Homo sapiens: one gene and its partner. The protein of the gene in region 1 interacts with the protein of each later gene in a biochemical or structural test. Each region holds a gene or a part of one and is shown on either strand. Other genes may lie near its edges. The genes, in order: CDC42BPG and RHOQ.

Region 1 (5,354 bases):
TGCCTAGGCCTCCCAAAGTACTGGGATTACAGGTGTGAGCCACCAAGCCACGACTTTTTTTTCCTTTTTTTTTGAGACAGAGTCTTGCTCTGTCACTCAGGCTGGAGTGCGGTGGCACAGTCCGCCCGCTTTGGCCTTCCAAAGTGCTGGGATTACAGGCTTGAGCCACCGTGCCCAGCCAGTTCACTGAATTCTTGGAGCCTCTGGCTGCTGGTTGAATTTGGACAAAGGGAGGCAGAAAATGGGAGGGAGTGAGGCGGAGGAATTTATTTCCTAGGCTGCCTTTCAGCTCAGCCATGGTCAAGTTTTACCAAAAGCTAGAGCTCCTGTCGGGTAGCACCACTGCCTCTTCCTGCCTGGGTGGCCTGGGGGTCCTAAGAGCTCCTCTCTGCTGCCCGGGCCCTGAGGCACTGCCATTCATTGGTGTGTTCCCTTAGCACTGTGCATGCTTCTGTAAACTGCCCTTCGTTAGTTAAGTCCCTTCATTTACCCCATTTGAATGTCACCTGATTCCTGAAAAGGCAGGGAAGACAATCTGGCCTTTAACTGTCTGTGACACCCCCACTGTTCCCTCCATTCCTAATCTCCCACCTTCTGAACCCCAAGAGGACAGATCCAGGCAAGGAGGCCAGCAGCTTACAAAGCTGTCTTTATTGGTTTCCTTTTCTTTTCTTTTTTTTTTTTTTTGAGACGGAGTCTCACTCTGTCACCCAGGCTGGAGTGCAGTGGCGCGATCTCGGCTCACTGCAAGCTCCGCCTCCCGGGTTCACGCCATTCTCCTGCCTCAGCCTCCCGAGTAGCAGGGACTACAGGCACCCGTCACCACGCCCGGCTAATTTTTTGTATTTTTAGTAGAGATGGGGTTTCACCGTGTTAGCCAGGATGGTCTCAATCTCCTGACCTCGGGATCTGCCCGCCTCGGCCTCCCAAAGTGCTGGGATTACAGGCGTGAGCCACCGCGCCCGGCATCTTTATTGGTTTCTTGCGCCTCACAGAGCATCAGGGTCTGTCCCTCCTGGGAATGTGGCATTTGAGGAGATAAATACTTATTTTGCCCCCCACACTTCAGTGGGGGGAGGTTTAATAAAAATAGTAATATAATAACAATATAATGACTGTGATCAATAGTAAAATGCGCCCTAGTTTCCAATACACAACTGGTTGAAGATTCGAGAAAAACGACCCCCTTTCTGGGAAGGGCCAGAGTGTGCCCGGAGACCCTCCAGTGGCCCCCACTGGGTACCCATCTCCCACCAAAAAGCCCTTATAAATACCCTCCCCATCCTGTCCCTGTCCAGGATTCTCTTCCCCGATGGGAGGATTGGCTGACAGTGTCAGCCCCGCCCACTGCACCCCTCCCCAGAGAAAGGACCCTTTGTTCTCCAGACTCCCTCTCTCCTCCATCCCTCTTTTTGTCTCCCTCCTCTTCTTCATCGCTCCTCCTTCGTCCCTCTCCCCTCTTCCTCTGCACGGCTTCTACCTCCTTCCAATTCCTATCACCTCCTCCTCCACTTCCTTCCTCCTATCCTGTCTCTCACCTCCTTCGCCTACATCCTTTCCCTCCTTCTCTATCTTCCCTTCTTCTGGATCACAGCCTGTTTTTCTCACCCAGACGCTAAGCAGAGACGGGGACATGCCCCATCTTGGCCTCAGCTGGGAGTCAGACAGTCCACAGATAAGACCTCCAACCTGTTCCCAGAGACCCAGTCCCTCTCCATCCCTCATCCCAACTCTTACAAGCCTCTGGGGGCTTGGCACTGGAAATAAGAGCTTTGGCACAATCACCCCTGGACACCAGAACAAAAGGGGCCATTCTATTCCCAATGGCTTAGAAAGGCTGGGGCTGGGAACAGAGGGGTAAGGCAGGATGAGGGCTGGGAGTCAGGACCCCCAAGTCCTGGGAACCCAGGCAAGTCTCCCAGTCATTGCCCAGCCCGGGTCCTCCCTGAGTCCGAATTTCCATGTCCCGGACCAGCCGGAGTATGGCATTCCTCAAGCTCTTTGCTCCCTCATGTCCTTCTGCCCTGGGATTGGGGTGGGCCCTAACAGAGGGCATCAAGGAGAGCTCTCCAATTCAGGGGATAGGGGGAGGCTTCGGGGCCGTTCTGAGACCTGCAGGAGAAAGAAAAGGAAGTCAAGGGGTAGGATCAGGAAGAACTCTTTCCTCATAGGGCTGGTGGGTCCTGGAGGCCCCCTTAGGACCCATCACCCACTGTATCAGGGCCCCTGGAGGAAGCCAGATGTGAGGTGAGGAGTAGAGGTGGTAAATGGGTCACTGGAAGAACCTGGAGAGCTCCTACTTAACTTTGAATGGACTCAAAGTCCTTTTTTTTTTCTTTTTTTCTGAGACAGAGTCTTGCTCTGTCGCCTAGCCTGGAGTGCAATAATGGCATGATCTTGGCTCACTGCAACCTCTGCCTCCCAGGTTCTAGTGATTCTCCTGCCTCTGCCTCCCAGGTAGCTGGGATGACAGGCATGCACCACCATGCCTAGTTAATTTTTGTTTTTCGTTTTTTTTTTTGGAGACAGAGTCTCGCTCTGGAGGCTGGAATGCAGTGGCATGATCTTGGCTCACTGCAACCTCCGCCTCCCAGGTTCAAGTGATTCTCCTGCCTCGGCCCACCAGGTAGCTGGGATTACAAGCATGCACCACCAGGCCCAGCTAATTTTTGTATTTTTAGTAGAGACAGGGTTTCACCATGTTGGCCAGGCTGGTCTTGAACTCTTGACCTCAAGTGATCTGCCTGCCTCAGCCTCCCAAAGTGCTGCGATTACAGGGGTGAGCCACAGCGCCCAGCCTCAAAGTCCCTTTGTTCATTCACTCCATTCTTCCTTCAGTCGACCACATGCTTTACTCTGGGCAGAAGAATGAAGCCTGACCCCCACCACCAAGGAGCCCACAGTCAACAGAGGAGAACAGGCACCAGAAGAAACCCACAGCACAGCAGAAGCTGCAAGGAAGGTGTGGAGGGAGCGGGGTGGCAAAGGTGGCACCAGCCCCAGGGAGGCAATGACTACCTGACCAAGCGGCCAGGAAGGCTCCTTTGAAGATGATCCTGGTGGGTCACCTGGAGGGCAGTCTGATGTTGGTTAAGGTGAAGATAGAGAAAAGGCATTCAAAACAGAGGGGACTGCAGGGGCAAGAGCCTGCAGGTGTGGAAGAACATGGCAAGCCCCAGGGCTCCAAGTGGCCTGGTGTGACGGGAGTGGGTGGATGTGTGTGCTGTAGACGTGGCTGCAGGGGGAATGGGAACCTCCCTGGCTTCTCTTAGGTTTTCCCCTGCCCTCATTCAGAATGGACTGCTCCCTCCTCTGACCCCCCAACTCCCTGCTGTGGACTGGGCCTCTATTAAGAATCCCAAGAGTGGCCGGGCATGGTGGCTCACATCAGTAATCCCAACACTTTGGGAGGCCAAGGTGGGCGGATCACTTGAGGTCAGGAGTTCGAGACCAGCCTGGCCAACATAATGAAACCCCATCTCTACTTAAAATACAAGAATTAGCTGGGCATGGTGATGCATGCCTGTAATACCAGCGACTTGGGAGAGGCTGAGGTAGGAGACTTGCTCAAATGTGGGAGGTGGGGGTTGCACTGACCGAGATTGTGCCACTGCACTCCAGTCTGGGTGACAGAGTGAGACTCCATCTGGAAAAAAAAAAAAAAAAAAGAATCCCAAGAGCTCCCCTTCTGTGGCACCTTCCCCATGCCAGGTACTATGCTGAGCCCTTCGCAGGTATCATCAGCTCATGCAGGCCTCCCAGAAACCACATCATTTTACAGGTAAGACAAGATCAGGGAGGTTGGGCATTTTGCCCAGAGCCACACAGCTGGAACAGTCAGAGCCAAGATTCCCACCTAGGCTGGCCTGCATCCAGGATCCTGCTGGTGCCCACTGGTGGGGTGAGACAGGTAAGAATCTGCATCTCGTAGAATCGAGGGCAGGGATGGGCTCAGCTTGTTCCCTAGCCTAGGTCACTGTGCAAGGCCTAGCATAAAACGGAACTGCCTGACGTTTGAATAGGGGACGGACAAGCCTCCCGGACCCGCTCACCTGCATTAGGGAGGTTGCAGGGCTCAGCGATCCCTGGGGGCAGGACACAGACTCGCTGGACAGGGATGTCCAGGGTTTCCTCTTCACTGCTCCAGCAGCAGACGAGGAGACAAAAATACCAAGATCAGATTTCAGGGATCCAAAGGGGGTAGAAACTTGGGGTGGGGGGTGGCACACTGGAGGCTGAGGGGCTGCCCTTACTGGGGTCTGCGTCTCCACCGAGGCCTTCGCTGCCCATGGAGGCTGGGCGCCGCAACGCCTCGGAGAAGCTGTGGGGCCGCTGTGGGCCGGAGCCGCGGGCAACTCGGCCCTTCTCTTCGGGAGCCTGTTGGGTGACAGTGCGGAGGGGCTGGGACTAGCAGGCACAAGGAGGACAAGAGGCCCAAGGCACAACAGACCAGGACAAATGAACGCCACTGGGCCCCCAGCCTGGTTTTACTTAAGTCCCAGGTAGCAGAAGTGTGAGTCCCAGGCCTTAGGAGTAATTACAGCGGCCCGTGATTGGCTAGAGCTCACCACAGAGGCCGGTTATTGGCTCAGCCTCACCAAAGTGGCTTGTGATTGGCTCCAGAGGACTAACCGGGGACTTGTCCCTGGCGCCGGGCCGCCCGTTGGCAGGGCCCACGTGTACTAGGTGGTTGAAGTTGGTAGGCGGCGAGATGAGCTTGGAGCGCACAAAAGGGTCCTTCAGCATCTCCCTGTGGGCGGAGGTGTAAGTAGTGGGTGGCGAAGCTCCACCCTCCCTTCGACCCGTCCACAAGCGGAGGCGGCCCCACCCAGCCTCAGCCCCCGCGTCGTGCACGCGCACCTGCGCTGCTGCTTCTGCTGCTCCTCCGACACGCGGAAAAAGAAGCGGCGCTTGCTCTTGGTGCGGAACAGCTGGCGCCGGCTGTTGTCGGTGAGGTCCGGGATGTCGAACTCGTCCTTCTCTGTGGGAGAAGTGGAGAGCTGGGCTGTGCTCACACATTCCCGGGGCCCAGTCAGCTGGCATTCAGGGCCACACAGCCACACGTGCGCACTGGGGAACGCACACACCCGTACACACGCACTCCCTCACCTGCCAGCTGGTTCCTGAGGTAGGTCAGGCGGACCTTCTCGGTGCCGTAGAGGAACAGGGAGCCCTCTGGATTGAGGGGCCGCACCTGAGGCAGCAGGCACAGCGGTCAGGCCACGCCTCCACCCCCGGCGCTACCCCAGGGCTCTGGCGGACCCTCACCTTCTTGAGCGGCACGGTCTGCACCCATTCTGCCCTCCTCACGTCAAACACATCGATGGAGTTCTCGCTGAACACTGTCAGGTAGG
Region 2 (7,252 bases), on another chromosome or scaffold:
TTTGACCGCACTCCCTGTTCAACAGGATGTGTGTAGTCAGAGCTGTTCTGAGTATGTTTAAACCCTGCTAGTATTTACTGAGTTTTTTCCTACATATGGGGCCAGAGGCAGACACATGCAAATATTATTTTATTTAGTCCATAAAACAACCCCATGAGATAGGTGGTATTTCATCTTTGCGGTGAGGAAACAGGCTCAGAGAAGCTAGGTTGCTTGCCTGAGGTCACACAGCTACTGAGGGGTGTTGCTAGGATTGGGACAGGGGTCTGAATCTGCTCCAGTTTGAAGTAGTTATACACACAGGACACCATGGGAATGCTGAGATGCCACGGGGTTGATTGGATTGTTTGTGCATCCATAGTTGTGGTACCTGTAATCTTCACAGCCATTCTCTGAGTGGGTGTTGGATGGCACCTCTACAGAGGAGAGAACTTAGATCCAGAGTCACTTGAAGTTGACCCCACTTACAAAACCAGGGCTTTCCATATATGGCCGTAATTACTCTTTTTAGTGGAGGATCATAAGATATAGACCAAGCAGGATGAACATATTAGTAAGGCTCAAATACTACTGTTTTCACCCAATGCTGGACACCATTGGTGGGGCCTAGATGTGTGTTAGGCCCCATTGGTGTTTTTCCCAGTGTCTAGACTTTTGTTTTTGCATCAAAGCTAGTAATATTTCATCTCCCAGCATTTGAGGGTTTATTACTAATAAGCAACTTAGCAATGATGAGACCAAATGGCAAGTGCCTGCTGTGTACCTGGTACTATGTCCAGGTACTTTTGCACCTGGGGAGTGCAAAGGAATGAATTTAAAATGGGGATCTACCACAGCTGATGTCAGCAAAGGGAGAAATGTCTGTCTCGGGTCTCTGTTCATGTGTTACATAGGAGATCTCTACATTGCACTTGGTCATTAAGACCTCAGGCTTCTAGGAATCCATATCAGATTTGTCTTACAATAATAACAATGATAAATAAACATGTAAATAAAAAGTAAATAAAAAACATTAAGGGTTTATATATATATATATGTATCCGTATACACATATACATATATATATATATATATATATGTGTATATATATATATATATATATATATATATATATATGTATATACATATATATATATACACAAATCCTTAAGCCTAGTGGGCAGCAGAGAAAGGTCCATGGGCTTTGGAACAAAACAGGCCTGGGCTCAGATCTCCACCTTAGCTAGTCATGTGATTCTAGCTAAATTATTTACCTTTGTGATCTAGTAAAAACGTGAATAATTAGAATCTGCATTACAAGGTCATAGGCTGGCTTAAACTCTTTAACATATTTAAAAGCAGCTGATACTTTGTGCATAGTGGGTGAGTGACAAATAGTACAGGAAATTATTATATTCCACTATGGGGAGTTTTGTGGGGAGAAAGGTTCACAGAGTGGAAGAGAACAGTATATTGTGCCTGGAGTTGATAGAAATTCCACTAGAATGCCAGATCCTAGAACCTTTTCAACCAAGGTGTGCAACAGCTTTGCGCATTGTAATTCCCATAGTCCCTATTGTGGGATCCATGGTTCCAAGCCCAGTGCTCCCTGCCGTAAATGCCCTGTTGTATCAGATGGTTTTCTGTCTTAAGCAGAGCCCGTATCCCCATTGATAGAAGAGAAATAGCTTAGAGTTCCATGCAGAATTTGACAGACAAGTAGGGTATGTAGGCTTCAGTTGGTTCTACTTTCAGAGAGTTAAGATGGAATGAGGCAGCTCATGGCACTACAGGTCAGTTGCCTTCTCTCCAAAATGTTCACTCATGCATGTGGGCACTCATTGTATTTGAATAACAGCAACAGTGCCTCCCTCAGTTTGGAACCTCTAGTCCACTTGCTCACTCATGGTCCCTGCCTTAACCCCAGTCAAGTTCAAAGCCATAGGCATCATTTGTCCGACTGACATATTAGGGCATCTACCAGTCAAAGGGTGATTGTTGTAGATGACCTTTGGCCTTCTAGAGCAGGCTGCTTTCCACTTGACCTCTGCTGCTATTAGCAGACAAAGAGAGAGAATGGGAGAGAGAGTGTATTGGACTTCAGTCCCCATCATGTGCACTGCCTGGGGACATCCCAGCACACTCAGAGCACCACTGCCAAAGGGAACACTTCCCCTCTGTTGGCCAAGCCCATGGGTGGTCCAGGAGCAGCTGTCACATTTTGACTGCCAAGCATTTTGGAGTGGAAGTTGACCGAGGCATCTTCCTTCTCACTAGGGGCCTTGCGTGTGTTTTGGGGGTGAGGGGTTGGCTTCCTGCCTGGGCCTCTGTGGAGCTTCTCCTTTCTTGCCCAGCCTTCAGGACTTCAGTGTAGGCTCTGCAGCAACCCCATTGTCTGCTCAAGGAGGGACTGGAGAGATGGGATTTTCCCTCCTGCTACTGCACTGTTTGGAGCGATGGGAAGTGGAAAGAGCTCTCCCTCTCTGTCCAGACAGGCCAGTGGGGAGCTGCCTGGCAAGCTGCTCTCTAGCTGTGGGCTCTAGGCTGATCTCTTAATCCTTGGCAGGAAGGCAGAACTTGATACCCTGGAGAGGGAAGGACTGAAGCCCAGTTTATTCAGGTCCCAGAATATCCACACTCAGGAGGATGTGTGTTGGGGGTGAATTTGGGATCCCTAGAGTTCCAGATTTAGCCACTGTCTCAGTGTGTGGAAGTCAATTTGTGTGCTTTGGGATGTATTGTTTCTATGTCTGTTAACTTAAACACACAAGTTCAGGGAAGCGTCCATGACAGCTATAAATATCTTTTACTCTGGTGTCCCTTGGTGTTGCTTTTTCAATGACAAGTGAGATTTGTTTTACACTTGATATAACCCAGCAGCTGTGGCTGCCCTGCATGCCCTCTGGGTGCCCACAAGGCACTTCCCCTACAGAAGGGAATCTCCACCGGAGGCAGGCTTGGCATGCCCCACCTTCTGCATTTTAGCAGAAGGGCCTGGCATGATGAGAAAAGGGAAGGAGAAAGGGCCATGGGATCACCACTCACCAGGCTCCTCCCACCTCCAGGCAAGTCATCCTCACAACACCCTTCAAGGTAGACTTCTCCCAGATGAGGAAATTGGGAACAAGTGGGCTTATGGGAACCAGACAGAGATGTGATTAGGAAAAAGGTTTTCTACTTTGGAGAAGGCCTGCAGGGAACATTAGTAGGGTTTAGGAAATGCCACTCACAACATCAGACTCTGGGTCCTTGTAGCCCCGTGTTCCATCCTTGCTCAGCCCGGTGAGCAGAGCCTGGGAGGAGCCCCAGGGTTCCTTCCAGGCATCAGCTGCAACAGGTGAGATGCTGGCACTGAGCATCCTGGTTTCCCTTAGTAACCTACTGTAGATTTGTCATGTGTGCATTTTGCTAACCTTTTTAGAAGCTATTTATATCTCTAGCCCACACCGCATCACACGGGAATGCTGGTTTCCTCCTCTGCGTTGGGAAGGTGGATAGCCTTTGTTGACTCCAAAGCCTTTGCTGTGTTCGCTCCAAAGTCTGAATGCCCTGTGTTCCCCTCCTTGGGACTCTGATGTGGGTTTGGGTTATGCCAGCTTAGACTGTGGGCTGGCAGGCAGGGACTTTAGGGTGGGGGCAGTCCCCACCAGCTCTCGTTGGTCTACAATTATGCCTCATAATCGGGCACATAATCTGTGCCCCATCCCCATCCTGGACCTTTGATCTGTTTGGCTTCTCCACTTCCATCATGATTCTCCTGAGGTTTGGTGACATTCCCACGCTTTGAACGACAGCTTCCCCGCAGGTATCTCAAGCATGAGTGTTACAGGTGTGCTGAGATGCCAAGCTCTCATCTCTGAGGGGCCGGGGGAGTGACAGCCTAAGGGGGTTGAGCATGTATTGTCAGTTGCTGTGGGTGCTGTGATGTGAAAAAGGTGGGAAGCATTGCTTTAAGCCCCTCGGGGTCAGAGGCCCCATGGAGAATTGGGCTTTTGCGGTTTTGTTGTGCAGTTTGGGGTTTCAAGAGATTAGATCTAATGGTATGAAAACAAAGCCAACAAAGTAGCTCTCCACGGGGGTGTCCGTTTCCAGAAAGAGCACATGTGTTGGCAGCTGTGGGTGCTACAGAGGCCTCAGACACAACAGCAATGCTTCAGCAGGAGAGGGACGCAGTTACAAAGAAACAAGATGGAAGACCATGTGTGGCTCTTAAAAATTAAAATTCCTGATTCTCAGCTGTATTTCCTTTCTCTCTGACAGGCTTGGCTTTGCCCTAATTTGGCACACTTGGGTCAGAGAGCAGCTTTCCTTGCCCTCAGCAATTTGTCATTCCTCTTTTGGTTTCTGAGCACAGCTGCTTTGCATGTACGGAGGCTGGGCTGTCTGAGCTCTCAGGGGTCCCCCGGCTCCCTGGGTAGAACGCTCTCCTGCCCAGTGCCGGCCAGGACCTCCTGGATGCGTTCTTGCTCTCTTCAAGAACAGTGTCTTTCTCTACCATGTTGCAGTGCTCAGCCCAGTGCCTGCTACCTTGTAGGCATGCAACAAATACATCTTAAGGGGATTCATGGCCAGGCAGGGTGGCATGTTCTTGTCTGTAATCTCAGTACTTTGGGAGGCCAAGGCTGGAGGATCATTTGAGGTCAGGAGTTCAAGACGAGCCTGGACAACACAACAAGACCCCCAATTCTACTAAATTTTTTTTTTTAATTAGCCAGATGTGGTAATGCATGCCTCTGTAGTCCCAGCTACTCAGGAGGCTGAGGTGGGAGGATCACTTGAGTGCAGGAATTCAAAGCTGCAGTGAGCTATAATACAAGGCTTCATTGCACTCCAGCCTAGGCATTAGAGCGAGACCGTGTTTATTTAAAAAAAAAAAAAAAGAATTGATTCTCATTTGACTGTCAGCTTGTTTCTGCTAAAAGGTTAACCAAGGACTAAAGTCATAGCTGCTAAATAATAGCATCAGCACAACCCCTTTTCCAGGAAAGCTTCACTAATACAGTAGAAGTCTTTAAGGTTCAAAGGAGAAACAGGCACATAGGTATGGGGCAGGCCATCAGTTTTGTCTTTACACAGGCCCAGGGGCCTTAGTGATCACCAGTGGGTCTGTCTGTCCCCCAACACTCTGTCTCAGACTCCGGCCTTTGCATGTTTCCTGAGACCTCTTGCTCCCAGATCCCCTGAGGAGGAGACAGGTTGGCAGTGGAAAGAGTGTGGGTTTTGGAGCCTCCAGATGAACTTCGAATCCTAGTTCTACCTCTTTGTAGCTGTGAGACATCGGCCAGCCGGCTCACTTCTGTGAGCCTCTCTTCCTTCTGTGTGAAGTGTGGAGATAATTTATACCCTGCAGCATAGCTGTAAGGATTAGAAATGATGTATGTCGTTACCCTGTAGGGCTTGGTGCTGAGAGTGCGGGCCCAGGCTAGCTCTGGGGGCTTCACACTGGCTCAGTTCGGTTGGTGTTGATTCAATGCCTGGTGTGTGTTCCCACCTTCCACAGGAGAAGGTGGGGGATCGGGCCACAGAAAGGTCCACTACACAACTGGGCAAGTTCATCGTGTGAAATTGAGTGCTGCAGGGTCCCACACAGGAAGAGGTGACAGGGAGGAGCTTTTTGGAAGATCTAGGCTTGCAGGAAGAGATGGGGGCCAGTAGAGTACTGGTTGCCAGTGTGGACCCCCACACTGGACTCCCAGGGCCCAACTTCAGCTCTGCCACTTCCCAGCAAGGGGCTTAACCTTCGGAAACCTGTTTCCTTATCTGTCAGATGGAGATTATGATAGTACCTCCTTGTGGGGTTGTTAGATATGTTGGAGCTTCCCAGCTCCCAGATAAGGGATTTCCTCAGCCCTCAGGGCAGCTGGGTAGGGCCTGGGACAAGCCATGGCTCAGGTTGTCCTAGCTTGAGCAGTCTCACCTCAGGCATGCAGCAGTGGCTCCTCTACTCCACCCGATGTGTGCTGAACACATCATCTCATTTTCTCTGTGTGCCATGAGGTGAAGATTTGGGAAGCATTGACCTAAATGAGTTCCAGCAGGCAGAGGGGTGTGGAGAGCTCATATTCTGAGTGGGAAGAATAGTGTAGGGAGGAACGGCAGAGGGGGTGACCCCAAAGCGTCTTTTTATGGACCCCAGATCCCTGCTATCAGTGTCAACATGTGGAGCAGGGTTGATAACTAAATTATGGAGTTTTTCACCTGGTGACTGACAACTTGGTAATTAAAGAGATATTAATCTGGTGCTGTGTTGCTGGTTGATTTTAATAGAAAGAAAAGAATGTGGGGAAAGGGGTCTTTATTGCTGTCTCTGTTCCTTTTTGAGTGAATGGTGAGAGCACTGAAGCAGCCGCCTCTCCAGATCCCTAGATTTTCCTGCTCTACTCAGGCTCAGGGTAGACTGAGGGGCTTAAAAGTGGCAGGCTCATCATCAAATGACATTTTTACAGCACATAAAGCATGTCGCACCTGGTACCGCCTTGAGTTCCCTCACCTGCTCTGTGAGTAAAGGAAGCCAGTGGTGGCTGTCTCATTTTGCAGATCTGGGGAGGTTAAATGACTCGCTCCAGGCCACACGGTTGGTAAAAGGCAAAGCCGAGATCACCAGGCAGGCTGTCGGACTTTAAGCCCTGGGTTCTTGATGTTAAGTCACTCTCCCTAATCATCTGGCCCATGTTAAATGCCTCTTTTATCACATGCACTGTTGTTCAGCGTTTCATGTAAAAGGTACATTCCAAGCGTATCGCTTTTCTAGCTAGAAGAGATGGTGGAACATTGTGTATAGGTGGAACACGTAGGGACGGCTGCTAAAACGGCTCCTACAAAGACTTCTGCCCCACGTGACGTTACGGGTGTTTTGTCACTTTGTCCCTAAACCACCATGCTTCCTCAAAAAGGAGCAGGCCCGAGGTGGCGCTGATGGCCCCATTGCTCAAGTACGTGTGGAAGAAGCTCATGCCATTTGCCTAAAGCTGTGGCCCCTTCCCAGAAGAGAGGGACAGGGAAATGCTGTTTGGGGGGCTGCCAGGCGGGCCAGCTTTAGCCTGCAAATGACGGGTGTCGTTTGTGTCCCATGGGGGCTACCTCAGGCCTTTCCTTTCTCCCTTCAAGGATTTTCTTATTCAGGGGAAGCCTACCTCTGCAAAACTGTTTGTCCCTCCTTCATCTGAATATTCTCTAAATATGGCGCAAAACTTCCTCTGCCACCTGCTGCTCATATTGTTTGCCCTCTTGGGCCATCCCCATTGCCACCACCTCTGCATGGGCTCCCAAATCC

The links.
Region 2: the proteins of CDC42BPG (region 1) and RHOQ form a complex in vitro, tested with the Homo sapiens proteins (one study listed by BioGRID).

The regions. Positions count from the first base shown.
Region 1 is NC_000011.10:64,822,418-64,827,771, forward strand, and holds the end of CDC42BPG (serine/threonine-protein kinase MRCK gamma), read right to left. Parts: coding exon 5,269-5,354; intron 5,195-5,268; coding exon 5,110-5,194; intron 4,982-5,109; coding exon 4,861-4,981; intron 4,751-4,860; coding exon 4,633-4,750; intron 4,378-4,632; coding exon 4,254-4,377; intron 4,139-4,253; coding exon 4,053-4,138; intron 2,113-4,052; coding exon 2,056-2,112; 3' UTR 635-2,055; downstream 1-634. UniProt on the Homo sapiens protein: May act as a downstream effector of CDC42 in cytoskeletal reorganization. Contributes to the actomyosin contractility required for cell invasion, through the regulation of MYPT1 and thus MLC2 phosphorylation.
Region 2 is NC_000002.12:46,545,396-46,552,647, forward strand, and holds part of RHOQ (rho-related GTP-binding protein RhoQ), read left to right. Parts: intron 1-7,252. UniProt on the Homo sapiens protein: Plasma membrane-associated small GTPase which cycles between an active GTP-bound and an inactive GDP-bound state. In active state binds to a variety of effector proteins to regulate cellular responses. Involved in epithelial cell polarization processes.